Linked DNA regions of Homo sapiens. The protein of the gene in region 2 purifies or fractionates together with the protein of the main gene of each other region. This does not show direct contact. Each region holds a gene or a part of one and is shown on either strand. Other genes may lie near its edges. The genes, in order: KLHL25 and IGFN1.

What was found.
Region 1: the proteins of IGFN1 (region 2) and KLHL25 purify together in Homo sapiens (co-immunoprecipitation; 2 studies listed by BioGRID and IntAct, with this or other methods). This does not show direct contact.

What each region holds. Positions count from the first base shown.
Region 1 is NC_000015.10:85,777,364-85,793,421, reverse strand, and holds part of KLHL25 (kelch-like protein 25), read left to right. Parts: exon of another isoform or gene 1-7,204; intron 7,205-12,711; exon of another isoform or gene 12,712-12,796; intron 12,797-16,058. UniProt on the Homo sapiens protein: Substrate-specific adapter of a BCR (BTB-CUL3-RBX1) E3 ubiquitin ligase complex involved in various processes, such as translation homeostasis and lipid synthesis.
Region 2 is NC_000001.11:201,198,412-201,209,505, reverse strand, and holds part of IGFN1 (immunoglobulin-like and fibronectin type III domain-containing protein 1), read right to left. Parts: intron 10,173-11,094; coding exon 10,128-10,172; intron 9,898-10,127; coding exon 9,852-9,897; intron 9,270-9,851; coding exon 9,095-9,269; intron 7,788-9,094; coding exon 7,674-7,787; intron 5,769-7,673; coding exon 5,600-5,768; intron 4,425-5,599; coding exon 4,152-4,424; intron 3,424-4,151; coding exon 1-3,423.

The DNA.
Region 1 (16,058 bases), on a different chromosome or scaffold from region 2:
GCTGTGCCTGTGAAGGTTGACGTAGTCAGTCTTTTTCCGGCCTGGCAGCTATTTCAGTTTTGAGTCATTTGTCAGGCAGTGACTCCAGGGTGGTTGATAAAAGGGAGGTAGAAATGGAAGACACCTTCATCCTGGGGTCTTGGGCTGCAGTTGGATTTATGTATGTGGTGCGGAGAGAAGAGCTATAGGCAAATTGCATGCTCCACATCGGAAGCAGGTTCTGCAGCCCGATGCCCCTTAATAGCGTTTTAAATCTGCGGGCACCCCGTGTGGGCAGAAGAGAGCAGGAAGAAAAGAGAACAATTACCCAGTGAAAGCAAGCTTGGTTCGTCCCGTCTATCACTTGGGCGGGGGCGGGGGGAAGGGTAGGATGAGTGAGAGTGTTATTTAGTGGGTGGTTTGTGACTGATTGATTGATTGATTCATTGTTTGAACAGACTTGATTGGGCACCTGCTGTGTGCCAGGCCCTGAGTTAGGTGCTGGAGACTCTTCCTTTAGTGAGCACCTAGATGAGGGAGTGCTGGCACATGGATTAGGGGCCCTGACACATCGTAGTGATAGAGGCAGCAAGAGGAGAGAAGGAGACACAGGTGGGCAAGGCTTCCTGGGGAGAGGATGCCTTGACTAAGATGAGAAAGGCATGTCATCGCCCAGATTCGAGGTGTAGGGCAGCCACCTTTGTCCTGTCGCTCACCCACACTTCTCCCAGAGGCCCAATTCATTGCCAGCCTCAAGATAGGCACAGGTTGAGGCCATGGAGAATGCAAGTGGGAGGTGGTAGAAGGTTTGCTCTCGTCCGTAGTGTCTGGCCGCACAGTCAGCAGTCCAGCGCATTTGTAGGAAGCTGGATGGCTTCTGGATGCAGCCTCTCTTCTCTGGGGGTCCTGGGAGAACCTACCCCCTGGTCCCAAAGACCAGCCCATTGTCTGAGCCCCTAGTCCCTCTGTACCACCAGGCAGTGTAGGCATAGCCTGGCCAGTGTGGGCAGAGCTGGCACAAGAAAACAGAGTGGCCAGACACAAATGAATTGGTTGATTGAGATGCTGGTTTTCATCTAATGTGGTAAATTTCATAATTTAATTGCCTCAGCCAGCCAAGGCTGTTGAAGCATTTTCCTCACCAGGAAACACTTAGTTGGAACAAGCTGGGGGTAGAGGAGGGAGGTGCAGGGGAGGAGGGAGGAGGGAGAACTTAAGCATCCACAGCTTTCAGTCACAGCATCCCAACAGGACTTATCAATCAGCAGCTATCCCCAGCTGATGGAAGTCAGCCCAGCCCCTACAGTAGGTTCCAACCCCTTTCCTTGACCACCTCATTGCCATACCAACCTAAAGCTGTCAAAAGCTGACACCTGTCATCTTCAAGGCATAATCATCCCATACTGCCTCCAGGTCCTTCTGGGGCTGTTAGAAACTGGGGAAGGGGTGCTGTGGGATTAGGTGGGGAAGCGAAGGGGTTTGGGGATAGGAAGGGCTCCCTGTTAAGTCCTTTTAACCCAGGAGCAGTGGAAAGAGCATGGGCTTTGGCACCAGACTGGGGTTCAAATGCTGTGGGTCTGTGATCAAGTTCCTTAACCTCATTGAGCTTTGTTAGCTTTTTTCAGGGGTATGGTGAAGGTTAACCACCATACTATGCAGAATCCCCTAGAATGGGGTCTGGCACCAAGTGGGTGTCAGTCATGCCGGGCTCCCCTTTCCCTTTTTTGTTTTTGTTCCCTGGGTGCAGAATTGAGGTTGGGTGCTTGTTGCTCTGCAGCTGACTTGCAGCCCTCCCCTGAGTCCCCAGTCACCTCACCCCCGCCCCCTACCTCTCTTGCCACTCTTTCTTACTGCTAAACCTTTCCTGCTTTCCTTCCAAGCCCTGTCCCAGCACCCTGTTGGATGATAAACGATAGATGTGTGTGGCTTATTAACCTTTTTTTCTTTTGAGAAGGAGTCTCGCTCTGTCGCCCAGGCTGGAGTGCAATGGCGCCATCTTGGTTCACTGCAACTTCTGCCTCCTGGATTCAAGTGATTCTCCCGCCTCAGCCTCCTGAGTAGCTGGGATTACAGGCACACACCACCATGCCTGGCTAATTTTTGTATTTTTGTAGAGACGGGGTTTCTCCATGTTGTCCAGGCTGGTCTTGAACTCCTGATCTCAGGTGATCCACCCGCCTCAGCCTCCTAAAGTGCTGGGATTACAGGCATGAGCCACTGTGCCTGGCATTTTTCTTTTTTTTTTTTTGAGACTGAGTCTTACCTTGTAGCCCAGGCTGGAGTGCAGTGGTGTGATCTCAGCTCACTGCAATCTCCACCTCTCAAGTCAACCAGTTGTCTGCCTCAGCTTCCCCAGTAGCTGGGATTACAGGCACCCGCCACCATGCTCGGCTTTTTGTATTTTTAGTAGAGACAGGGTTTCACCATGTTGGCCAGGCTGGTCTTGAACTCCTGACCTCGTGATCCACCTGCCTTGGCATCCCAAAGTGCTGGGATTACAGGTGTGAGCCACCGCACCTGGCCTTTTTTTTTTTTTTTTAAATGGCAGCTCTGTGGTCTCAGAAATCAATTTCATTGAGAAATTGCACCATATTTTCTGCAAATACATAAAAATCTTCCTGGTCATACTTTTCTCCCACAGTGGTCTCCTGTTCCCTGAGTTGGGTACAGAGTCTGTATGAGGCTCACCTGGGCCACTTCTTGTTTCAGCGTGACCAAGGCCCGAGGCCAACTCCGTCTCTTCACCATCCCATAGCTAGAGCCCTCAGACCTGGAACCTGTTGGCAGAAAGAGCACTTGAGTCAGAGTAGGGGAGTCGTGCTTGGCCCCAGCTTGCCTGTGTGACTACATGCAGGTTCCCTTACCCCTGTGAGCCTCAATTTGCTCTCCTGTATAATACTTCTATTAAATGTTTTGCTATAAAATTTCAAAAGTTCTTGCAAGCTCTGGTGTTCAGCAGTTTTATAAGGCTCGAGTTACTTGCTTAGCCTTTCTGGTCAGGAAGAGCTTGAACAGCCAGTAGAGTACAGAGGGGCCAATTTAGAAGTCAGGAATGGACCGGGCGAGGTGGCTCACCCCTGTAATCCCAGTGCTTTGGGAGGCCGAGGTGGGCGGATCACCTGAGGTCGGGAGTTTGAGACCAGCCTGACCAACATGGAGAAACCGCTTGTTTACTAAAAATACGAAATTAGCTGGGTGTGGTGGCTCATGCCTGTAATCCCAGCTACTTGGGAGGCTGAGGCAGGAGAATCACTTGAACTGGGAGGCGGAGGTTGCAGCGAGCCGAGATTGCACCATTGCACTCCAGCCTGGGTGACAAGAGCGAAACTCCGTCTCAACAACAACAACAAAAGAAGTCAGGAATGGGGTTCTAGTTCCAGCTCTGCCTTGGATGTGTGCTGTGGGAATTGGGCAAGTTACTTTCTCTGGGATCTAGTTTTTTCACCTGTAGAGTGAGAGGGGTGACGTAGGCAAGCTCCTAGTTTCCTGAAGACTCGATTCAGATTTTCCCAGTAACTCCAAAGGGACGGGGCTGTTCTCCTTGAGCCTCTGGCAGTTCCCTGTCCCTGCCCACTGCCTCAGAGTTTGAGGCCTCCTGCGAAGGGGCTGGTGGAGACAGAAGACTGCATCAGGGGAGCACCAGGCTGGGCTTAGGGGAGCAGGCGTGGGCTCAAGGGAAGGTGGTGTGTGGGTTACTCATTTCTCAGGGCCATCGCTCTGACTGGTCGTGGGCAGGGAGCTGGGCAGCAGTTCGTGGGAGCACCAGGATGACCCCCTCTGGAATGACTAGGGTGAGACTTCCCTGGTGGGATGTCCCTTGGGCACAGAGCCAGGGCCACCTCCCAGCAGAGAGTTGGACAACGAGCTTTGAGGAGCAAGGGAGATCTTCAGCAGATTAGCTGGACATGGTGGCAGGCGCCTATAATTCCAGCTACTTGGGAGGCTGAGACAGGAGAATCGCTTGAACCCCGGAGGCAGAAGTTGCAGTAAGCCGAGATCGCGCCATGGCACTGCAGCCTGGGCAACAGAGTAAAATTCTGTCAAAAAAAAAAAAAGGGATCTCAAGGGAGCCCAGCAGGGCAGGAGGAGGCGACTGAGCACCAGCCTGCAAGACCAGTTGGATGGCTCCTCCCACGGGGAAGCAGGGCTGAGCAGGCCATGGGAGCGCTGTGCCTGCTGCCACCAGCTCAAGGGCCACATTCACCTTAGGTGTCACTCCCCACCCATCTCTGCCAGGAGGAGCCTTCCACCATCAGCCGAGTGGTGAGGAGTAGGATGCAGGGAAAGGATGGAGACAAAAAAGCCTTGCTTACATTTTTTGCCTGTTCCCATTGGGCCCCCAAGGAGAGGCTGACCACAGATCCATCTAGGCTGAGCAGAATTAATTTCCTAATTAAGATAAGGAGAAGCTGTGCTCATTCAAACTCCAGGACAAGCTGCCAGCCAGGTTTGCTGTTGGCCAGGCCAATTTGTCTGAGAGGAGTGAGGGCCAAGAGATGGAGGAGCTCTTTTTCTAGAAAACCATGGCGATTCCATCCATTGTCCGGAGTTCATGTTCTGCACCCTAGCCAGCTGGGCTTGTGAGACCTTGGCAGCAAGTCCCTTAACCTGTGAACGCTTTTGTTGTTCACAGGCTTGGAAATCTGAGGGAGAAAGGTACCCAGCTTTGTTCATGCAACAAACATTTATTTAGTTTTCTGAATGGCTCGCCGTGGACTAGAAGCTGAGGAAAGAAAGTCAGGTTCAAAGAGCTCCTGCTTGGGAGCTCAGCGTCTGATGTGGGAGGCAGACAGGCGGGTATGGCACAGCGCTAGGGTCTCAATAGTGGGCATGTTGAGAATCTGCCTCAGTTTCCTCATTGATGAGGTGAGGAAGTGGACTGTTGGTTTCCTCATTTCAAATGTGTCCAGGGAATTTTTTTCCCCCATCTGTTCTCTGCCGGGCTCTGGGATTCAGTGGAGAACAAGGCAAGGTCCTCCCCGACCCTCTCCTGATCCCACATTCAGCTGAGGGAGGCAGACAACAGACTGACAAAAATATGCAGCTGCAGAGGAAGTGGACAGGGAGGTGTGGGAAGATGGTCAAGTGAGGATGCCCTCCGAAGAGGGGTCAAGGAAGGCCTCTCTGGGGTGGTGACATTTGAGCCAGCCGTGGGAGGATCAGAGAAAGGCCTGCCAGGTGGGTAGCACAGCTCGTGCAAAGGCTGGGCCTGCGTGGGCTGCGGACAGAGACATCATGAGGCACAGAGAGGTGCCAGACCCTGACATTCTGCAGTCTTCTGGTGCAGGGAGAGACTGAGGATAACATTGTTCTCTTTCATTTTATTGTTTTTCTCTGATTTAAATAATATATCAATGGATTTCCTTTTTTTTTTTTTTTTTTTTTTGAGATCTAGTTTCCCTCTCATTGCCCAGGCCGCAGTGCGGTGGCGCGATCTCAGCTCACCTCCGCTTCCCGGGTTCAAGCAATTCTCCTGCCTCAGCCTCCCAAGTAGCTGGGATTACAGGCGCAAGCCACCACGCCCAGCTAGGATTTCCTTTATAAATGAAAAATATAGGAAAAGATGGAGCACAGTGTGAGGGTCCATCCCCTCCTTTGTATCTGTCCACAGATGGGTGCATACCCTTCTAGTCCTCCGTTGTATGTGCAGATTTTGTGTTTACATAATTTGAATCATACTCAATACTCTACAACTTATACCACTTAGTGTGTGGTGGAGCTCTTTTTCACAGCGTCGTCATATTCCACACTGCAGCCAAACCATCATTTCCTCTCATTGTGTCCTAAGGAGAGACTTTAGGTAATGCCTCATTTTCCCTGTATGATCAATGAAATCTTGTGTGTCCTTCATCATGCATCTTTCTGAGCAAGTGTGATTATTTTAAATTTTCATTGTCAAAGCCAAATGCCCTTTGCAAAGATTTACCCAGTTTACTCTTTCACTAATAATAGTGCCTGAATGCCCATTTCTCTACAGACTCACCTAATTTTTTTTTGAGACTGAGTTTCGCTCTTGTCACCCAGGCTGGAGTGCAATGGCATGATCTCAGGTTACAGCAACCTCTGCCTCCCAGGTTCAAGCGATTCTCCTGCCTCAGCCTCCCAAGTAGCTGGGATTACAGGCAAGCGCCACCACGCCCAGCTAATTTTGTATTTTTAGTAGAGACTGGGTTTCTCCATGTTGGCCAGGCTGGTCTCAAACTCCTGACCTCAGGTGATCCACCTGCCTCGGCCTCCCAAAGTTCTGGGATTACAGGCGTGAGCCACTGCGCCCAGCCCCCAAATTTTTGATGTTATCCACATTTTTAGTTTTAGCTAATGTGATGGGGTGGGGGGGCGGGTGGAATCTCATTGTTCCATTAAAAAAAATGTTTATTCAGGCTTTGTCCTTTGATTCTAGTCCACTTTTGTCTTTCCAGAAGATCAAAGTTTATTGAGTGCTGGTTCTGCCTCTTATTGGTCTCCTGACCTCAGCTGGGTACTCATCTGTGAAATGAAGCCCTTTAATCCCTGCCCGCCCCTGCCCCCCACTAGGCTGCTGTATTTTTTGCATGGGAAAACATTCCTGAAAGTTCATTTTATGCTGAAAAGCTCTGCAAACATGAAGAGGCATGGTTTTTACTAGCGAAATGGAAATATCTGGAACATTTGAGTGAATTCAGGTGTTTCTAAACAGCCAGCATATCCAGGGGAGGAGCTGGGGTGACTTTGCCCTTGTGCAGTGGAGCTGGCCTTAGGTGGGAGGTGTCTGCCTATTGTCCCAGAGATGCACGGGGCCTTACCTGGCTGAGAGCCATCTGGCTGGGCTTGAGAGCTCTTCTCAGAGGGCTGGCTTAGTCAATGATCTGTCACCTGTCTGCAGGAATAAAGAAATGAGCCAGGAGGACAGAGAGAGTTCCGTAGCTGGTCCAGAGAAAGGCCCAGAAAGGGGCAGTGGCCACCACAGACTAAACCCTGTTTACTTGCCTGTGTGGTCCCAGGAGGCATCGGGCCCCATGATAGAGGAGCCAGGGAACTGCTGACCATGGCCTGGGCCCCAGAGGAATTCATTACTGCTGGGTACCTGGGGACGTTTTGGCCAGGCTCTCCCCACCCTTCAGGAAGCAACATCCAGGTTTGGCCATGACTCCCCTGCTGCCCTGGAGATGACTCAGAACCAAGCTTCAGAGGAGGCTCCTGTGATCCCAGCCAGCCTGACCTACTTGGAACAATCTCAGGGACAGATGTAGGTAGGGGGAAGGGAGAGGGTAACCAAGGGGACAATGGGACCCTCAAAGGGCTTTGGTAGGGAGGGCTTCTGCCTTTATACCTCTGCAGCTAGTGAGCAGGAGAAGGGAAAGGGGAGGGGCCTCGCTGAAAGCAGTTTTTGCGTTTATTAGACACCTCCTGATTCTGAGAGTTGGGTGTTTCATTAAGAGAGTAAGGGAAGCATCTCACTCTAGAGCTGGTTTTGCATGGGTCCTCCTGGGGCGGGGGGGTGGGTCGGCTGCCTTTGCTGGGCTCCTGTCCCACTGCCATTGTGAGCGCAGCTTGAAGGCATTTCGCTGAGTTGGAGTGAGGTCGAATCACCAGGTTTCTTTTCAGGCATCAACTGGTATATCTGTGTTGCAGGAAGTTGCAGTTGCTATTTTTACCACTCCAACCAGGACTTTTTACTGGGAGGTACAATTACAAGCAAAATGCCAGGGTTTGGCTGGTTAGCTAAGCCGTGGGAGGCTGCTGCGGGCTGAGGCAGGGGCCACTGCACATGGTCCTTTGCTGTGTTGTACAAAGCAAGACACGTTTGCATGTGGACACACACCTACCCTGGTTGCTGGGTGGCTTTGTCTGAACCACTTCCTGTGCCTGGAGTTTCCTCTAGGTGGAAAAAAAAAAAAAGGACTTTGCTGGGTTTTGCTCAGATAATTGTACCTGGCTGCCAGGGCAGCTCCAAAGCTGTAAGCAATGTAGTTCTGACTGCCCAGAAGGTTGAAACTTTGTTAAATGAAATTGAGAACCTGCTCTATACTACCCACTCTGCTAAGGACCAGGATATAGGAATACATCAGTTGGCCGGGCGTGGTGGCTCATGCCTGTAATCCCAGCACTTTGGGAGGCTGAGGCAGGCAGATCACGAGGTCAGGAGATCGAGACCATCCTGGCTAACATTGTGAAACCTCGTCTCTACTAAAAATACAAAACATTAGCCGGACGTCGTGGTGGGCGCCTGTAGTTCCAGCTACTCAGGAGGCTGAGGCAGGAGAATGGTGTGAACCCGGGAGGCGGAGCTGGCAGTGAGCCGAGATCACACCACTGCACTCCAACCTGGGTGACAGAGAGAGACACTGTCTCAGAAAAAAAAAAAAAAAGAAAAAAGAAATACATCAGTCTCTGCTCTCTAGCATCACATGTCCAGGAATTGAAAATGCAGAAAGCGTGAGTTGTCTTCTGCTCCTTTTGGATAATTACCTGGTGTGTTTTTAATGTCTATACATTATGACTAGAGGCCAGGTGGGGCTTATATTGGTTTCTGTTACAGCATAACACATCATCACAGGCTTAGTGGCTTAATCAGTTCCTATTGATTAATGCACAGTTCTGTAGGCTGGAAGTCTGGGCTGGCCTGACTGGGTTCTCTACTTAGGGTCTCACAAGTCCAAAATCAAGGTGCAGCTGTACTGGGCTCTTGAGGCTCTGGTGAAGAATCTGCTTCCAGGCTCAGGTTTTTGGCAGAATCGAGTTCCTTATGGTCGTAGGACTGAGGTCAGTCCCCATTTCCTTGCTGGCTGCAGCCGGGTTCTAGTCTCAATGCCCTCCATCTTCAAACCTGCAGTGATGTGTCACATCCTTTCTTGCTTTGAATCTCCGACTCTTTTACTTTTGGGACCAGCTGGAGAAAACTCTGCTTTTTTTTTTATTTTTTTATTTTTTTTGAGATGGAGTTTCGCTGTTGTTGCCTGGGCTGAGTGCAGTAGAGCAACGTCAGCTCACTGCAACCTCTGCCTCCCAGGTTCAAGCAATTCTTCTGCCTCAGCCTCCTGAGTAGCTGGGATTACAGGTGTGTGCCACCAAGCCTGGCTAATTTTTTATATTTTTAGTAGATACCGGGGTTTCATCATGTTGGCCAGGCTGGTCTCGAACTCCTGACCTCCGGTGATCCGCCTGCCTTGGCCTCCCAAAGTGCAGGGATTACAGGCATGAGCCACCGTGCCCAGCCAACTCTGCTTTTAAGGGGCTTATTGACTAGATCAGGCTCACCCAGATAATCTCCCTTCTTTAAGGTCAACCAATTGATCAGTAACACCATTAATTACCTATGTAGCACACATTAATTAGATTTGAAAATCTCTGTCATGATCACAGGAATCAGGTCGACATCCATGGACCTGCATCAATAACAATATGATTAATAACAGCAGCTGTCATGAATCAAGCAAAATTTGTGTCCCACCATGCTACACTCTTTACGTGTATTCTCTCTTAATTCTGAGGATGGTACCTCGAGGTCAGGACAGTTATTGTCACCCCTGTTTTTCAGATGAGAAAACTGAGTCTCAGAGAATTTCAGTATCTTGGACCAGTTTTACAGGTAGCAATGGCAGTGCTGGGATTTGAAACCAGGGACTCTTAGCATCTAACCTTCCTGGTAGGCTGCCCAAGGTCGGTATCTGCAATTCGCTTTGTATGATTTATGGAACACCATCCAGAAAAGAGTTAAGGTTTGCTTTTTCCCATCTAGCATTTAAAATTCTTTTTTTTTTTTTTTTTTATTGAGGTGGAGTCTTGCTCTGTCACCCAGGCTGGAGTGCAGTGGTGCGATCTCAGCTCACTGCAAGCTGCACCTCCTGGGTTCAAGCGATAGTCCTGTCTCAGCCTCCTGAGTAGCTGGGATTACAGATGCCTGCCACCAAGCCTGTCTAATTTTTCTATTTTTAGTAGAGAGGGGGTTTCACCATGTTGACCAGGCTAGTCTTGAATTCCTGACCTCAGGTGATCCGCCCACCTCAGCCTCCCAAAGTGCTGTGATTATAGGCATGAACCATCACTCCTGGCCTAAGATGTTTAAATATGGCTGGGCACAGTGGCTCATGCCTGTAATCCCAGCACTTTGGGAGGCCAAGGCAGGTGGATCACCTGAGGTCAGGAGTTCGAGACCAGCCTGGCCAACATGGCAAAACCTCATCTCTACCAAAAAAAAAAATACAAAAATTAGCCAGCCGTGGTAATCCCAGCTACTTGGGAGGCTGAAGCAGGAGAATAGCTTGAACCCAGGAGCTGGAGGATTGCAGTGAGCCGAGGTCGCATTGCTGCACTCCAGCTTGGGCGATAGAGTGAGACTATGTCTCAAAATAAATAATAAATAAAATGTTTAAATATGGTATATGTTGATTATATTGCATATAATACGGCAGGTACCAGGCAGGCACCAGGGAACTCTCAGGTGGGTCTAACAGATCTCTGGATCATTTTGATTCTTTCTCCCGTGGGTATTGTGGCTAATCCCCATTTCATTCAGCAGTATTTATTAAGCATCTAATCGATTCTAGGTAGCAAAGATGACACAGAACAATGTCCTTGAGCTGCCAGTACAGAGAAGGGCACAATACGCAGTGACCTGAGGAGTGAACAGTGCTGTCCAGCAGTAGAAGAAAGGCTACCGTGCTGCAGCAAAGGCACAGAGGGCAGAAGAACGTTCATTCTAGGAGACAAGACAAAATTATGTTATTTACTGCATGCCATATGCCCTGTGTGTCGCATGGGGCACCACATTGTAGGTGCTCAGATTTCAGTGTACTTACTGCATTCATTTTCTGAGCATGTACTGTGGACAAGGCCATCCACATACCCGACAAATGTAAAATCCAGAGTGGGGTGTAGCTATGAAAGGAGAGATTGGGGAGGTGAGGGTGTGGGGCTGAGCAGGGAGAATGAGAGGAAGGGAGGGGGAGAGCTAAAGCCGAGAGAGGGAGGAAGAGGGGCTGGGGGTGGGACAAAGCTGGAAAGGGAACCGATTGAACACAGCTTGGATGTGAAAGCCTCCTTGAAGGCTTTTGAGCAGGAGCGCTCACAATTTGGCACTGGGTTGGTAGGTGTGGGAAGAAAGGGTTCAGGGGCCTGACCATAACCTGGCCTGCAGTGGTGACGCAAGACTGGGAAGGAAAACCCCAATGCAAGGTCCCAGGAAGGATGATGCAGTGGAACTTGGTGGCTAAACCATATGCTAAAAATGTGTATATGAATGACTGGCTATTTATGGGCACCCATGTTTTTGCTATAAATAAACGTACATATGTAATTTCAAGAGACCGAGAATTATCAACTGCAAAGCCCAAGTGTAGCAGTCTACTCACGGCCCCTGTACTTTGCTACTGGAGGGCCTGTCCTCTGCAAACCCAAGGTCTTTTTTTTTTTGGAGAAGGATGAGGTGGTCCTGTGGGTGAGAGAAGGCTTTTGATAATGAAGGGAGGAGCAGGCAGGGCCAGGTCATTAGAGGGAGGCAGCCAGCAGTGGGTGAGAGGGTACTGGGTCCAGCTGCCTCCGGTGACAGCAGGCTCTAGTGCATCACAGTACAAACGGGATGGAGACCCCCTGCATAGGCCCCCATGCTTCCTACAGAATTTTCTTTTTCTTAGTTCTTAAAAAAAACAGTGGTTAGTGTGGAAGATAAGAAAAATCTTCTGGCCAGGCGCGGTGGCTCACATCTGTAATCCCAACACTTTGGGAGGCCGAGGCAGGTGGATTACTGGAGATTAGGAGTTCAGGACCAGCCTGGCCAACATGGTGAAACCCCGTCTCTACTAAAAATAGAAAAAATTAGCCGGCATGGTGGCATGTACCTATAATCCCAGCTACTTGGGAGGCTGAGGCAGGAGAATTGCTTGAACCCAGGAGGTGGAGGTTGCAGTGAGCCGACATCACACCATTGCTGCACTCCAGCCTGGGCAAAAAGAACGAAACTTTGTCTCAAAAAACAAAAAAAGAAAAATCCGCTACCGCAATGTTCTCAAAGTGTGGTCTGGGTGTCCCTGAGATTCTCTTGGTGGAGAGTCCACAAGGTCAAAACTATTTTTGTGGTAATACTAAAACATTATTTGCCCTTTTCACTCATTCTCTCCAGAGTGCATAACTCAGTGAACCGATGTTTTCCAAATGGCCGATGCCTGATGTTACAGAATCACACATGGGTAAACAATCCATTCAAAGTGCAGGACAGGCTGTCAGATGGGAATGCCACTGAGTACAAAAGTTCATTGATACGGGCTGGGATACGGGCTCCTGAGTAGCTGGGATTACAGGTGCCCGCCACCACCATGTTGGCCAGGCTGGTCTGGAACTCCTGACCTCAGGTGATCCACCTACCTTGGCCTCCCAAAGTAGTACTAGGATTACAAGCATGAGCCACTGCGCCCGGCCCCTTTGGTTTTTTTTAGATAGCTGTGTGGAACTCCACTCTGTGCGTGTACCCAGGTTTATCTCACCAGGCCTCTTATTCGTGAACATTGTAGTTGTTCGCAGCCCCTCCTTTTGTAACCATGCTGCGGTGTGTAACCATTTTGTAACCATGTGCAGGCATGATGGAAGGGAAATTTTTAGGAGTGGAAATGCTGGGGCAGAGGGCACATGCATTTGTCATTTTGTAAGATGTTTCCCAATTGTTGTCTGAAGAGATTGTGCCAACTATGCTCCCCTTGCTCTCATCTCTGTCAGCGGGTAAAGAAAGAGTTGTGTCTTGGGCTTTGGGAATTGAGAGGCATTCTCATTCTGATTCAGCATCAGCGTTGACAGCCTAGAGAAGAACAGAGCTTCTGGAGAACAGGGAGAAAGAAATTCACTACCAGTAAGTGGCCAGTGCTTGGCATTTGTTCTTTTTTTGTTCTGTTCTGCATGTTTGTGTTCCTCCAAGACTGTCACTCCTGGTGGTTCATTGAAAGTGATATCTAGGCCAGAGTGCTTTTAATGGCTCCATCTGTGGGACCAGACAGGAAGAGAGACAGCCTCCCTCCAGGTCCTCAGACTGCATCTGTTTGCAAAGGGCCAGGCCAGTCCTGCCATAGAGGGGGAATCCTCCTCAGGAGGCCACGTTTGCTTTGGAGGGAGCCAATCTCGCTGCCCCTCTTTGTTTCTGTCTCTGGCTTGCTCTGGATAAGTGGAAGGAAACGAGTTACTTCACCAGATGGGTGAACCTGAGTGCTGAGTTCTTTGTCCCCTCTGTGGTGACAGCAGTGGAGTCCACTTTATTGGCATTACTCCCGTCTGGTGCAGCAGCTGGGCTTGCAGATGACTCCCAGCTCTGGGGTCCAGAGAAAGCCTGGGCAGCACCCCCAACCTGAGGGGGTTGGCATGTGGCAGGTAGAAGCCAGGCGGCACCTTCCATCTGCCTTGACAGTTTAGAGGGGCTGCCACCCCTCCTTGAGCTGAAAGAAGCCTCTTCGTTGCAGGGTGGTTTAAGTGTGGCTTGCGGGTGGCCTACCTGGTAAATAGAACTTTTAGGACGGTATGACATAAAAACATTTTTTCTCAAAAGGATTTATCTCAAGAGAATACAGTGAACCAACAGAAGCAAAAGGCATTAGTTTTTCCTTGCATAAAAATTCAGAAAATTATGGGTGAATGGATTTGTAAACCATAGTGATGTGTTTCCACAGACATTACAATTTACAGTTGACAACCACAAAGACACTAGACTAAGGTTCCTGAGGGCTCCAGAAGGCTGGGTCCCCAGTGCCTGCACTTGGCAGGCCTTTAATCAGTCTTTGTTCAGTAGTGAGGGCAGAATAGGAAAATGGCAACTCTGTGAAAAGTTGAGGTAAAACCAGTGTAAAATAGTATTCTGTAACTGCAATAATTTAAAAGTGTTTGTTTTGGGATAAAAGCTGAAAATAATAAGCCATAGTGAAAATAGTAGTTGTGTTTGCAGTGTTTCTCAATCTTGTTGGCACCTCCCTACCCCTAAGCCATTTTAGATGTTTTTTCCTAATTGCACCCACCCTCCTCATTGCATTTTAATACCACATGTGTATCTATGCCTTATACATACGATGAAGAAGAGTTTTTCATTCCCCAAGAACTAAGCTGTGTGTCCCCATCCACTGCCTCCTCCCTGCTCACTTTGGTCAGGCAGTGTGGTTCTAGGGCATTAGTGTCTTTTCTGTCTTGCTCCTCACTGTTAATGTCAGTAAAAGACAACACAGTGGAGCTCCTGGGTGTGGCTTTTGGCCTCTCTCACTTGGTCTGTAGAGCTCCCACTCAAAAAGACAGGACGCTGGGCAGAAAGGCAGGTGCTGCCCATCCATGGCTGCATCTATCTGCACCTGCCCCGGGCTGGATGTGTGGCCTGAACAGTTCCTCCCATGGGAGGGTTCGGCTGGCTTCTCTTCTTAGCAAGATGGCTTCTCTTTAAAAAAAAAAAAAAAAAAATTGTTGGTGAGGAGCTGGCCAAATCCATACGTTGCCTTTGAGTAGCTGGGCAAGTCCTGGATAGGTCCTTTCTCTAAGGTGAACTTTCTCAGTCCTGATTCCCTATCTGATCACAGAGGCTGCTCCCTACTAGGACCAGTGACCCATAGGAGAGAAGTGGGTACCATGGGGCCTGGGAGCTTAATCCTCTTCGGGATCCCTCTGTCCTGGTTGCACAGAAGCTGGTGGAGAAGGACTGCTTAAGGGGTAGACGGAGAGGACAGTGTCCTGGTGCTGGGACCTGCTGGTGGACACAGGGCTGAGGCCCCACAGACCTCTCTTCTGTCCCCTTTGGTGCTCAGCAAAGAGAGGGATGGCCTGGATTTGAACGCCGCCCCTTCCCCAGTCTTGGGTCAGTGAGCTCACATAGTGTAGTTGTGGGAACAGACTCAGCAAGACAGAGCCCTGGGCTCTGCCCCCACTCCTTGCGTAGCTTTGGGCAAATTGCCTAACACCTCCCTGCCCAGTTTCCTAAGCTGTGAAATGCAGACGATGGTTATACCTAAGGCTGAGTAGGGATGAGGTGAGTTAACACGTGAAGTGCTGAGACGGTGCCCAGCATATGATACTAAGCAACTGTGATTAGCACTGTTGTTGCCATTATCATTAACCTGCAAGCTTCTATTTTCTTATCGGTAAATTTTTTACAGAAATAGTGTGGCATATGGCAGGATTGGACTTTCTGGCTCTCTGGTGGGTGAGTGAAGGCGTGTAGCTGGATTTGGCCAGTGAGATGTGAATAGAAGTGCTGTGTGTCTTTCCAGGCCAAGCATTTAATTGTCAGTGCTATGCTTTCCAGAGCTCTCTCTCCGCCCTTTGGCATAGTGACTGGTGACATGGTGGCAGCTCTGTCATCTGGGTTCCTAGGAGTGGGATTGATGAGAACACTCATTACCGCCTGAACCATGATGCATGTATTAATAGTATGAGCAAGAAATAAAATCTTTCTCCTGTACAGCTGCTGCGATTTGGGGGTTGTTCCTTGCTGCGGCAGAACCTCATCCGTCCTGATTAAGACAGAAAGTCATAACCATGTTGAGCTTGGTTGTGAGGATTAAATTTTGTATGTAAAATGCCTAGCACAGTATCAGGTACATGATAGTCGTGCATTTGATTTGGCTCCCTTCCTGGCCAGAATCCCCTGCTGATTTTTAGCAGCACGTGTTGCTTCATCTTTCAGCAGAGTTTCACAGGCCTTGACCCCTTACCTCCTGTTCTGTGCCTTCTTTGTGAAGAAGAGCTTCACCAAACTGGGTAGGGCCCAGCGTGGTGCACCGCCTGACCCGTTCCTCTGGAGTGGAGAAGGCGTCCCTCTCAACTTGTAATCACAGCTCCCACTCCCTGGTGACCAGAGGCTGCAGTCACCCTGGGACTCTGCGGTCAATCCTGGAAGTTAAAGTGGCTGCCCTTCAAGTGTGCTTAATGTTTGGGTGCGTTACGTGAAAAGGCTGGAGCATGTGGAGAAGGCACTGAAACATCGGCCGGCCCTCTGGGTCTGTCGGGACCTCCCTTCGCTTTCCAGGCTTTGGCTGCAGGCTGACGGGTAGGGCCATGTGTAGAGTAATCCTCTGATTCATTGTCCACAAGGGACACTGTGTCTGTGTCTGGGTGGGGAAGGAGACACAATTTGAGAGCATTGGTTG
Region 2 (11,094 bases):
CAGAAGCCCCCAAATCCTTCCTATAGCCTGCCTTATCCACAGACCCCATTTCCCCAGAACCTAAGCCACCCCTATAACCTGCTTTGCTCCCTGAACCCCCTCCCTCAGAAACCCCCAAATCTTTCCTATAGCCTGCCTCAATTAACCCCATTTCCCCAGAACCCCTTAAACCACCCCTGTAACCTGCCTTGCTCCCTGAATCCATTCTCTCAGGAGCTCCCAAATTTTTCCTATAACCTGCCTCATCCATTGACCTCATTTCTCCAGAACCCCTTAAGCCATCCCTATAACCTGCCTTGCTCCCTGTGCCCATTCCCTCAGGAGCCCCCAAATCCTCCCTATAACCTGACCCCATTTCCCCATAACCTCCAATCCCATTCCTATGACCTGACTCATCCAGTGACCCCATCTCCCCAGGACCCCTTAAACCAGCCCTGTAACCTGCACCCATTCCCTCAGGAACCCCCAAATCTTTCCTATTATCTGTTTCATCCATTGACCCGATTTCCCTGGAACCCTTTAAACCACCGCTATAATCTGCCTTGCTCCCTGAACCCGCTTCCCTGGAATCCTGTAAACCACCCCTATAATCTGCCTTGCTCCCTGAACTTATTCCCTCAGGAGCCCCTAAATCTTTCCTATAACCTGCTTCATCCATTGACCCCATTGCCCCAGAACCCCCTACACCATCCCTATAATCTGCCTTGCTCCCCGAACCCATATTCTCAGGAGCCCCCAAATCTTTCTTATAACCTTCCTTATCCACTGACCCCATTTCCCCAGAACTCCCAATACCCTTCCTACAACCTGGCCCATCTGCTGATCCCATTCCTTGGAGGCCTCCTGAACCATCTCTAAAGCCTGCCTCACCCCCTGGCCCTGTACTCCTAGGCCCAAGGCCCCTTGACCTTTCTCCATAGGCTGTTCTGACCCCAGTTCCCTGAGGCCCTGGAAGTTCTGATCCATCCTCATAACCCAGCACATTGCCAGCCCCATAAGCCCACTGGCTCCCAGAAGCGGCCCCATTGTGAGGTGCGAGTGACTCAGGGTGCCTGGTATCATCCCTATAACCAGCTCCAGCTCCAGAGGCCTTAGCACCAGGGCATCTTGTCCCATCCCCCTCACCCACTTTGCTTCCTGCCCTCAGAGACCCTGGTCCCATGGCTCCTGGACCCCCAGAGCCATCTTCATAGCCTCCTTCTCCAAAGGCCCCCAGGGCCTCTGAGGCTCTGAAGCCCCCATAATTTCCAGTCTGACCCCAAGGCCTTATTCTTCCAGAGCTCTCTGGTTCTGCTTCCACACATCCCATCCCAACAGTCTCCACTACTCCAGGGGCCTTGAGACCACCTCTACCCGCAGACCCTGTCACCCCAGGACTCCCTAGGCCACCATCTGAATGGTGCCCTCCCCTAGGGTCCATGCCTGCCTGGCATGCAGAGGCCCAATTCCTGGTGTCATTCATGGGTGCTCCATCAGGACCACCTGAGCCATTTTTAAGACTGGCAACTCTCCCAGACCCTCCTCCTGCAGGGCCAGAATCTTCATTTCCAGACCACACTCCCCCAGGCGCTCCGGAGCCATGCCTGTACCCACCCCCTTCCTCAGACTCCACTCCCGCAGGTGCCCTAGGGGAAACTCTACAACCAGCACCATGGCCGGACCCCATTTCTCCTGGAACCCCTGAGCCATAGCTATAACCAGCCCCGCTTTTAGAGCTTATTTCCCTAGAATATCCTAAGCCACCCTCGTACCTAGATTCCATTCTCCCGGGACCTTCCAAGCCATCCTTATAGCCTGTCTCACCTCTGGGTCCTTTTACTCTGGAGCTCCCTGACCCATTCCAGAAATCTGGTTCAGACCCTATTGACCCAGGACCTCTTAATCCTTTCTTATCTCCTAGTGTCCCCCCAGATCCCTGAGCACCCAGGCCTGGAGCCCTACTTAGCCAGTGGCTTCTGGCATCCACCCCCTGACCAGACTCCGTCAGTCCAGCCACCCAGATACCACCCATACCCTCTTGTCCTCCACTGGGCCCCAGCACTCCAGGCCCATGGTGGGCCCCAGTTTTTCTGAGGCTAGATGGTGTGTCATCCCAAGGACTTGTGCCCTTAGATTCTATTCTGCCAATACCCCCTGCTGCTCTGTGACCTGCTGTCCAGCCCTGGGAAGACTGGAAGCTTCTGGGGTCATACTCTACCTCACCCGAGGCCCAAGCTGTTTCCTGGCCATCCCTTCCCCTGAGCTCCTGTAGGACACCTTCGCAGCCTCTGGGGTCTCCTGGGCCTCCAGGGCCAGTTTTGTAGGCACTTCCTGTAACTACAGACTCCCCCCGGCATATACCATCTGCCTCCTGCAGTGAGTCTTCAGCTTTGATCTCAGGACTCCCATCTCCCAGAAGGAATTTTCTACCACCTGATATTGATGGTTCCTGGAAGTCCTTGCCTCCAGGTATCTGTTCTAGCAACTCTCCTGACCCCCAGTAGCCCCTGGCTTCCCCATAGTCAGCATCTCTACCTCCCTGAGAACCCCAGGATTCAGGGGCCATGCCCACCTTGGAGCCAGAACCTCTTCCTCCAGTAAGCTCCAGGGTGCCAGGACCTCCTGCCCCATTGCTGTCTCCAGCTTCTCCCAGGCCAGTCCCACCACCCCACACTACTATTCCTCTCCCCCTTTCCCTACTTGGAGCATCCCCTCTGTCCATCTCAGCCAGGCTGTCATCCTGTGAAATCTCTATCTGCTTTCCTCTTGGCCAGGACCCTACAGGATCAGACTGGCATCCCTGCAGGTCGCTCTTTCCTCTCCCAGGTCCCAGTCGAGCATCCCACAGTTGCTCTGGGGCATGCCTGTCCAGTTGTCTTCCACTGTCCCCTCTGTGCTCCTTTCCTTCCCTGCTGCTCCCCAGTCCTCCAGCCTGAAGCCGACTGGACCCAGCCTCCCAGCCTCCTGCTTTCCTCCAGCATTCATCACTGTTGCTGTCTCTGCCACGATCTTGCTGTTGTTTTTCTGGGAGGCCCAACCCTGATTCTGAGCTCTCTCCCTGTAGATGGGGCCTCTCTGCAAGGCTTCTGGCCCAGCCTCCCTCTCTGTGGGATTGATTTTCCCTGGGAAGAGTGGCTCTGCTTCCCTCTGCTACTGGAAAGCCCTCGCCCTCCTGTCCAGGGCCCCAGGCTGAGTCAGCTGTCCCTTTGTCCCCCATCAAGGAGTAGCCATGTCTGCCAAGGCCATCCCTGTCTGGGCTGGCTATGTGCTGGAGCCCAGAAGCCGGCCCAGCCCCTTCAAGGGAGCCCCCCCTGGGGCCCTGCTCTCTGGATTTCTCTCCCTGGCTCTCGATGCTCCCAGACTCTTCTGCTCCTGATGCCTGGGCTCCTTGCCTCTGCAGTTTGTGGTCAGCACTTGTGGACTGAAGGTCTTTATCCTTCCCAGCTTCAGTGAGGGGTTATTCATATGGAAGGTCAGTGCCCACATGGAGAGACAAGAGAAAATACCAAAACTCCTGTTAAATCCGGCCAAAGCACCTGCCTGAGCCCAGCTGCTTGCCTGACCTGGACTTCCCCAGGAGAGAAGCAAGGTGACCACCTGGGAAGGAAGCCAGGGTGTTCCAGGGATGGATGGGTGAATCCCATCACCACCTCCCTAGTCCTATACCCGCAGGCCACCCTGCTATAGGCTTCATGAGGGTTTTGGAGAAAACGCATAAGCCAAAAGTCATTTGTTTATCAAACTGCCGCAGCAGGTGCATGGTTTTTAAAATATCGACTTGCTCAACCACCTGCCTTACTTATGTCCAATTTACACTTTCCTGGGAACATCTGGAACGCAAATTTCTATCCCCAGGGAAGTTTGAGAGTGCTCTCTGGTCTGGTGCAGGGGCTTCTCATCCAGACTGAACCTGGGCCACTGTCCCAAGGCTGCCTAGGACCCTAGAGCCATCTGTGCCCCAAAGTAATTCCAAGAGACCCAGTAGAGCAGGCACAGCTGAGAAGGGTTGGGTTGGCCATGAAGGTCTGCACTGCAGTGGGTGGAGAATAATCTAAGGAGCTTTCCTTATTCTCTCTGACCAAAGGAAATCCCACTGCCTCGCCTTCCTCATGCCTCCGCAGCCCCAAGGTCTTCCCTGGAGGCAGAGAAAGACAGAGTTTTGAAGCACTCACCTTCAACCACCAGCCAGGCGCTGGAAGTGTAGAGCCCGGTGCCCAGCGAATAGGGGCCCATGTCTGAGAAACGTGCCCCCCTCACCACCAGCCGGTGGGTCAGCCCGTCAGGGGACACATACACTTCATATTTGTCACTGGGGTGGAGTAGCCGGTGCCGGAAATGCCAGGCTGCACTAGGGCAGGGGCTGGAGAGGGTACATTCAAAGACTGCGTCACCCTGCTCCTCACAGTGGGTCTCCGCCAGTGGGACCACCACTCTTGGGGGGATGGCTGCCGGGGAAATAGGAATGGGGATATCAGCTTGATGGTATGACACAGTGTGACCTAAGGCAGCAAGGCTGGCCATTCAGAAATCCTGGCTTAGACCAGCTCAGCCACAAACTCCCCATGTTACCTTGGACAGGTCACCTCTGGACCTCAGGTGTCAATTCCCCCCAAGTAAAATGAGGGGCTACAGTTATGAGCAATGAGGCTTATTTTCAGCTCTGGGATTCTATACTTCCAAACCCAAAAGTTATATTTAGGGACAAGGTGGATGCATGAAGGAAACCACTATGCTAAGAGCCGGTAGTTTATCTTATTCATCCTTGTGACCATCTCCAAGATAAGTATTATTAATTTCTTTTTACAGGTGAGAAAACTAAGGCTTAAAAAGTTAAATAACTTGCCCCAGTCTTACGCAGTTAAGAGAAACCAAGATTCACACCCAGGTCTGGCTGACTCCCAAACCCATACTTCTTTTCCCAAACTGCACTGTTTTCAGGCTTTCCAAAGCCCCATCTGGGCACCTCCCCCGTGCTGGGGCACATAACCCCCTTTTTTCTCCCCCAACTTTGATTCAGCCATGTTCTTACGACATGTCTGTCCAAAGCTCCCTTCCCCAGGCCTCTCGTTGTCCTTTCAAGAACCCCCTTGAGCTGGCAGGTGCTCTGAGAGTGATGTGGACACAGGTACTCATGGGGATGGGACAGAGTTTGATGAAGGAGGAGTGTCAGTTCCTAGATGGGGAAGGAATACAGGAAGCAGAAAAGGAAAGGTCTGTATGGAGCGTGAGGATGCCTAACCCAGAGATTCTTGCTAGGGTGTTGTGGGAGATGAGGACATGCAACAGAAAGGAGTTCTAGAGGCTGTGCAATTAGTCTGGATCTGATCTGAAAATAATTGATGGCTAGAGAAGGTCTAAGCAGAGGCATGACACATATGTTCTATGTCTGTGACAGTAATTCAGTAGAACCCAGCTCAGCACCAGGAGAGATAACTCGCACCAAGGCTTTGGAAAACAGAAAGCATCAAAATTTGGCCATCTAGGTATGTGTCCCTCTCCCAATTGTCTTTTGCAGCTGGGGCCACATCACATTTACCCCCCAACACACACGTTGCACCAACATGGACTCCATTTCTAACATATCTCCCCAACTCCAACTTCGGCAGTGTAGACCACTCACCACTGGCCTCCAGTTCTGTGGAGAAGACCACAGCATCCTCCACCTTGACCTGGTAAATGCCAGAGTCCTCAGGCCTCAGGTCTTGAATCTGGAACTCATAGCGCTTCCCCAGCCGGCGCAGACAGTGCTTGGTTTGGTTGTTGAAGCCATAGGGGATCATCTCACCATCCTAAGGCCAGAAAAGGAAGAGGAGGCGGGCCTCAGTGGGTCCTCAGTGCTTCCTGCCCCAGTCCCATTCTGGCTATAACCAGCAGTTTTCTCCCACGGGCCCAGTCGCCAGACAACAGATTCCTGGAACCATAGAGGAGCTGGGATGGGGTGGACAGCAGGGCCTGGAGAACATGGGAACAGGGATTGTGAGCTGGATGGGAATCCATGCTCTAGGAATGTCCATGGAGTGAAAAGTCTGCAAGTGTTATACAAAGGGGCACCTGAAGTTGCTGACATTCCAGCTCAGGCTGTGAGTAGAGTTACTCTCCAGCAGCCCTGCGAGGATAGCAGGGGAGGCCGGACACAACACCCATGGCCCAGAGGCCCCAGCTCAACTTATTCACCAACAGGAACTTGCAGAGAATAACATCAGATATCCATAAGGCTCTATGAAACCCAGTAATCTATATGCATACCTGCTTTAACTAAGCCCTAGATAGGTTTGCTACTTGCTGAATATTAACAATAGCTAATACTTATTAGGGGCCCACTGTGTGCCAGGCACTGTTTCAGGTACTTAGGACACATCAATGCATAAAACAAAGATTCCTGCTCTCACTAGCTAAAATCCTATGGGGGAAAAATATAAATAATAGATGTCATAAATAAGTAAATAATTTATGTTAGAAAAAAATAGAACTGGCCGGGTGTGATGGCTCATGCATGTAATCCCAGCACTTTGGGAGCCTGAGGCGGGTGAATCACTTGAGGCCAAGAGTTCAAGACCAGCTGGCCAACATGGTGAAACCCTGTCTGTACTGAAAATACAAAAAATTAGCTGGGTGTGGTGGCAAACACCTGTAATCCCAGCTACTCGGGAGGCTGAGGCAGGAGAATCACTTGAACCTGGGAGGGAGAGGTTGCAGTGAGCCGAGATTGCACCACTGCACTCCAGGCTGAGCAACAGAATGAGAAGAAAGGAAGGAAGGAAGGAAGGAAGGAAGGGAGGGAGGGAGGGAGGGAGGGAGGGAGGGAGGGAGGAAGAAAGAAAGAAAAAGAAAGAAAGGGAAAGAAAGAGAGAAAACTAGGGAACAAAAAGGTAGATATGGGTCCAGGGCTCCTGAGTGCCAGGGTGGGGCTGGAGGGACATAGTGGAATCACACGGAGTGGCCAAGGGAAGTCTCTCTGCCATGAAGGAATTAGCCCTGTCGATATCGGGGATGAGCATGCCAAGCAGAGGGAACACCTGGGCAAAGGAACAGGGACAAGGCCAGTGGGCCAGGAACTGAGGGACAAGGGGAAGAGAAGCAGGAATAAGCAGAGAGGTGAGGGGAGGGGCAAGTCACACATGATGTCATTTAGCGCTGCAGTACACCATGAGACAGGTCCTATATTATCCCCAGTTCACAAGTGAGGAAGCCGAGGCATGGGGAAGATAAGTATCTTGTCTGAGGTCATACAGCTTATAAGTGATGAAGCTGGATGAGTTTGGCTACAGAACTAGCCAAATTTTACCAACTGCTCCCCACCTGCCTCTGCCCCCATCTGGTTGGCAGATAATTACTCCTAGAGCCCAGGTAGGGATGTATGAAGTCTCTGGAGAGAAAGCTCAGATGGAAAGGGGTGCACTTTCTCAGAACCCTCTTTTCACCCCCGTGCTCTGGTGTTAGACACAATTTACAGAGAATCACAGGCCCAGCTGGAGAGCCCAGTTGCTCAGTGTGAGATAAGAAGTCCCTGTGGATGGATGGTCTACACCAGGGTTTGGTCCAGGTCCAGCCAGGAACTCCATGGGATGAGGGGCTCACCACTTGTGTGCTCTGGTTGTTCCCTTGGAGGAATGCAGGGTACCCATAGTTCCCTCTCCACTAGACCTGAAGCATCCCTGCCAGATCCCCCCCACCCATAGCCCCTCCAGCCTCACCTTATACAGGTAAATCTTGCTCTGAGAATCCTTGAGATCCAGCTCCAAGTCAAACTTTGCATTCCCATCCTTGGTGACCCTGATGTGTCTTAAGCTGGAGATGGTGTTGATGTACTACAAAGCAGACAAACACCCAGCAGGAGAGCTCATGAAGCTCTCTCTTCGGGGTACTCTGAACCCTCATAGGCTCTGGTACCATCCCAGGCCCACAGCGTTCCAGATGAGCATGCATTGGCCCCTTTTACAAGTGGGGGAAAGTAAGCCCCTCAAGGAAGGAAATTCTCCAAGATGAGAGATCAGATCAGGAAGACAACCAAGAAAAGACCCCAGGTGTTCAGTTGCTAGAACACAGTGGGGCTTTTCCATCTATCTGTACTTCTAACGAACATTAGTTGAACACCTACCGTGTGCAAAGCTCTGTGCTAGGTCCCGTGTTAAAGCCAATGAGAAAGCTTGGAGGAGAGAAGGCTGAGACCCTAGGTGTTAGGTTTAAGGAAGCTTATCTTTCAAGGGGATAAGATACTATTTTCAGGATAATAAAAACTAGTTGTTTTCCATTTTCAGAAGAAAAATTAGACTTATGCTATAGTTAAGTTAGACACAGGAAAGAAATTCCTGTACAGCTGATAAGATTCTGGGATCAGAGTGCTAATGGGAACTGTGAAATTCCCTTCCATGAAAGCCTTTAGAAGTAAACCAGGTAGCCAGGTGCGGTGGCTCACGCCTGTAATCCCAGCACTTTGGGAGGCCGAGGCAGGCGGATCACGAGGTCAGGAGATCGAGATCATCCTGGCTAACACGGTGAAACCCCGTCTCTACTAAAAATACAAAAAGTTAGCTGGGTGTGGTGGCAGGCACCTGTAGTCCCAGCTACTCAGGAGGCTGAGGCAGGAGAATGGCGTGAACCTGGGAGGCGGAGCTTGCAGTGAGCCAAGATCCGGCCACAGCACTCCAGCCTGGGCGAAAGAGCAAGACTCCATCTTAAAAAAAAAAAAAAAAAGAAAGAAATAAACCAGGTACCTCCCCCCCGCAATCTGGTGACAATGATAATGATAGCAAAAATCAAGGCACTAAGCTAAGTACTTTAATTACATTCTCTCATTTATCCTCCCAATAACCCTACAAGGTAGGCATGACTATAATTCCCATTTTACAGATGAAGACACCAAGATACAGAGGCCCTAACCCTTCCAAAGCTCCAGAGTTTAGTAAGTATCAGAACCAGGTTGCAAAGGCAGGACACCAACCTGGGATCCCAGGGCCTTAGCCAGATACCCCACTGGGGACTAGATGGAGACAGGCCCCTTGATCATACTTGGTTTCCTAAGTTCTGCCTCCAAGCCCACCTCCAGGTGTGAGGCACCTATGGTCCAGGTGTGTGGGGTGGGCATGGAGTGAGGGGTGGGAATGGGGTGAGGCACCTGTGCCATCTTGTCCTCCTGTTCCTTCTTCATCTCCTGCAGCCTGCGCAACATGCCACGGTAGTCGACGATGCCATACTTCAAGCAGATCTTCTCGTAGTCCTTCCTGTCTGCTGTCATCAGCAGCTGCCATATCTGCTCAAGGTCCATCTTTTTCTTGGGGGCTGGTGGGGCCCTGGGGAGCAAGGCTAGCAGGTCAGAGGCCAGAGGAATCCCTGCTCCTCTGTTGGCCACCTGGCTCTGGTGTCCCAAGTAGTTCTGGGAAGCTGCTCTATCTGCACTCGAGGAAACGCAGAGCCTGGAATCTCTGGGACTGACCACTGTTGAGGCCAGAAGGATTCAGAGATGGGTGGGGCGAGCCTCAGCCTCACCCCACAACTTTCAGGAGAAATGCTCCTGACAACTTGTATTGTAGATTTCTAAGTAGGATGTCTGGGGAAAGTGGGTGTTGCATTGTTCTGTTGCTTAAAAAAAAAAAGTACATCATTGTTCTGGTGGACCACCACATTTTGCAAATGAGGAAATCAGAGGAGAGATGATTAACTCAAGGATATAGAGCTTTGAAATGGCAGAGCTGGAGCTCTGTCCCATTCCCATCCAGTTCAGTCCCCTTCCCATCCTCCCATCTGCTACTGGCAGTCTAGCTCCCTGCTGTGTTGGGTAGAGGTGGGGCTCAAGCCCAGCTTACTTATGGAAATAGCAGGGGGTGAATACTATGGGAGCCTCCAAAATCCCTCATGGACAGGCCCAAACCCACCTCTTTTTCAGCAACTTCCGGAAGTCCATCAGCTCCTTCCTGAGGTCTGAAAAAGGAGCAGGAATGAGGCCTCAGTCCCAGGTGGGATGACTGAGGGTTGATGCAGAGCTTTTCTGTGTTGTCCATGCTGACAACTGAGCCTTTGGAAGGGGCTCTCTTGAAGACTGGTGGTGATCCACAAGGTGTTCATGGTAGCTCAACCAGGCAGGGAACACCAGGAAAGGAGTAGCCTATCCCCCACAGGCCCCCAAGGAGGTTTCTGACAAATCTGCCTACCTTCCTGCGGTTCCCTGTGCCTCTTCCGATTCTTCCGAAAGCCAACTGCAACATCCAGGGAGGAGAGGAAGGAGTCGATGTGGACAAGCAGGGAGAGAAGCAAGACATGTTGATGGTCTTCCTGAGAAACTGATGGAGTCCCAGAGCCCTGCTCTCCCCACTGTCCTCTAAGGCGTGGACGATCCCAGCAAGAGGGATGGAGCAGGGTGGAGGGTCTGTCCATCATAAGCCTTTTTACCCTAGAGCCTTACCATGACCAAGGGGACCAACCTAAGCATCATCTCATGCAGGGGAGGCCCAGTCATGTGTCCGCAGGGGCCAGGGAGGTGGCATAAATGCGTGAAGCAGACACTGGCAACCACAACAAACTCAAGAGTATCTAAAGGGGCAGCTGCTCTTTCACTCCACCTGGGAGCTGCCATTTCAGGGTATAGGCCCAATATTGCCAAATAGGTCAGACATTGCTGTTTGGCTAATCCTGCAGCCATTTGTATTCTTCATCATCTGCTTCCACTAGAGAGGCTGAAAAAGCTAAACACTCACCTTCCCCAGCTTCCCTTGCAACTAGCAGTGCTCATGTGACACTGTCCTGACCAATGAGCTCCAGGAATTTCTGAGAAAGCCTTTGCTTCCTCTATAAAAAGGGTGGATGGACTGGTCGTGATGGTTCATGCCTGTAATCCCAGCATTTTGGGAGGCCGAGGGGGGAGGATAGCTTGAGCCCAGGAGTTCCAGACCAGCCTGGGCAACACAGGGAGACCCCGCCTCTACAAAAAAAATAAAAAAATTAGCTGGGTGTGATGACACATGCATGTAGTCCCAGCTACTTGGGAGGCTGAGGTGGGAGGATCACTTGGGCCTGGGAGGTCAAGGCTGCAGTGAGCCATAATCACACCACTGCACTCCAGCCTGGGCAACAGGTCTCAAAAAATAGAAAATAAAAGGCCAAGCACAGTGGCTCATGCCT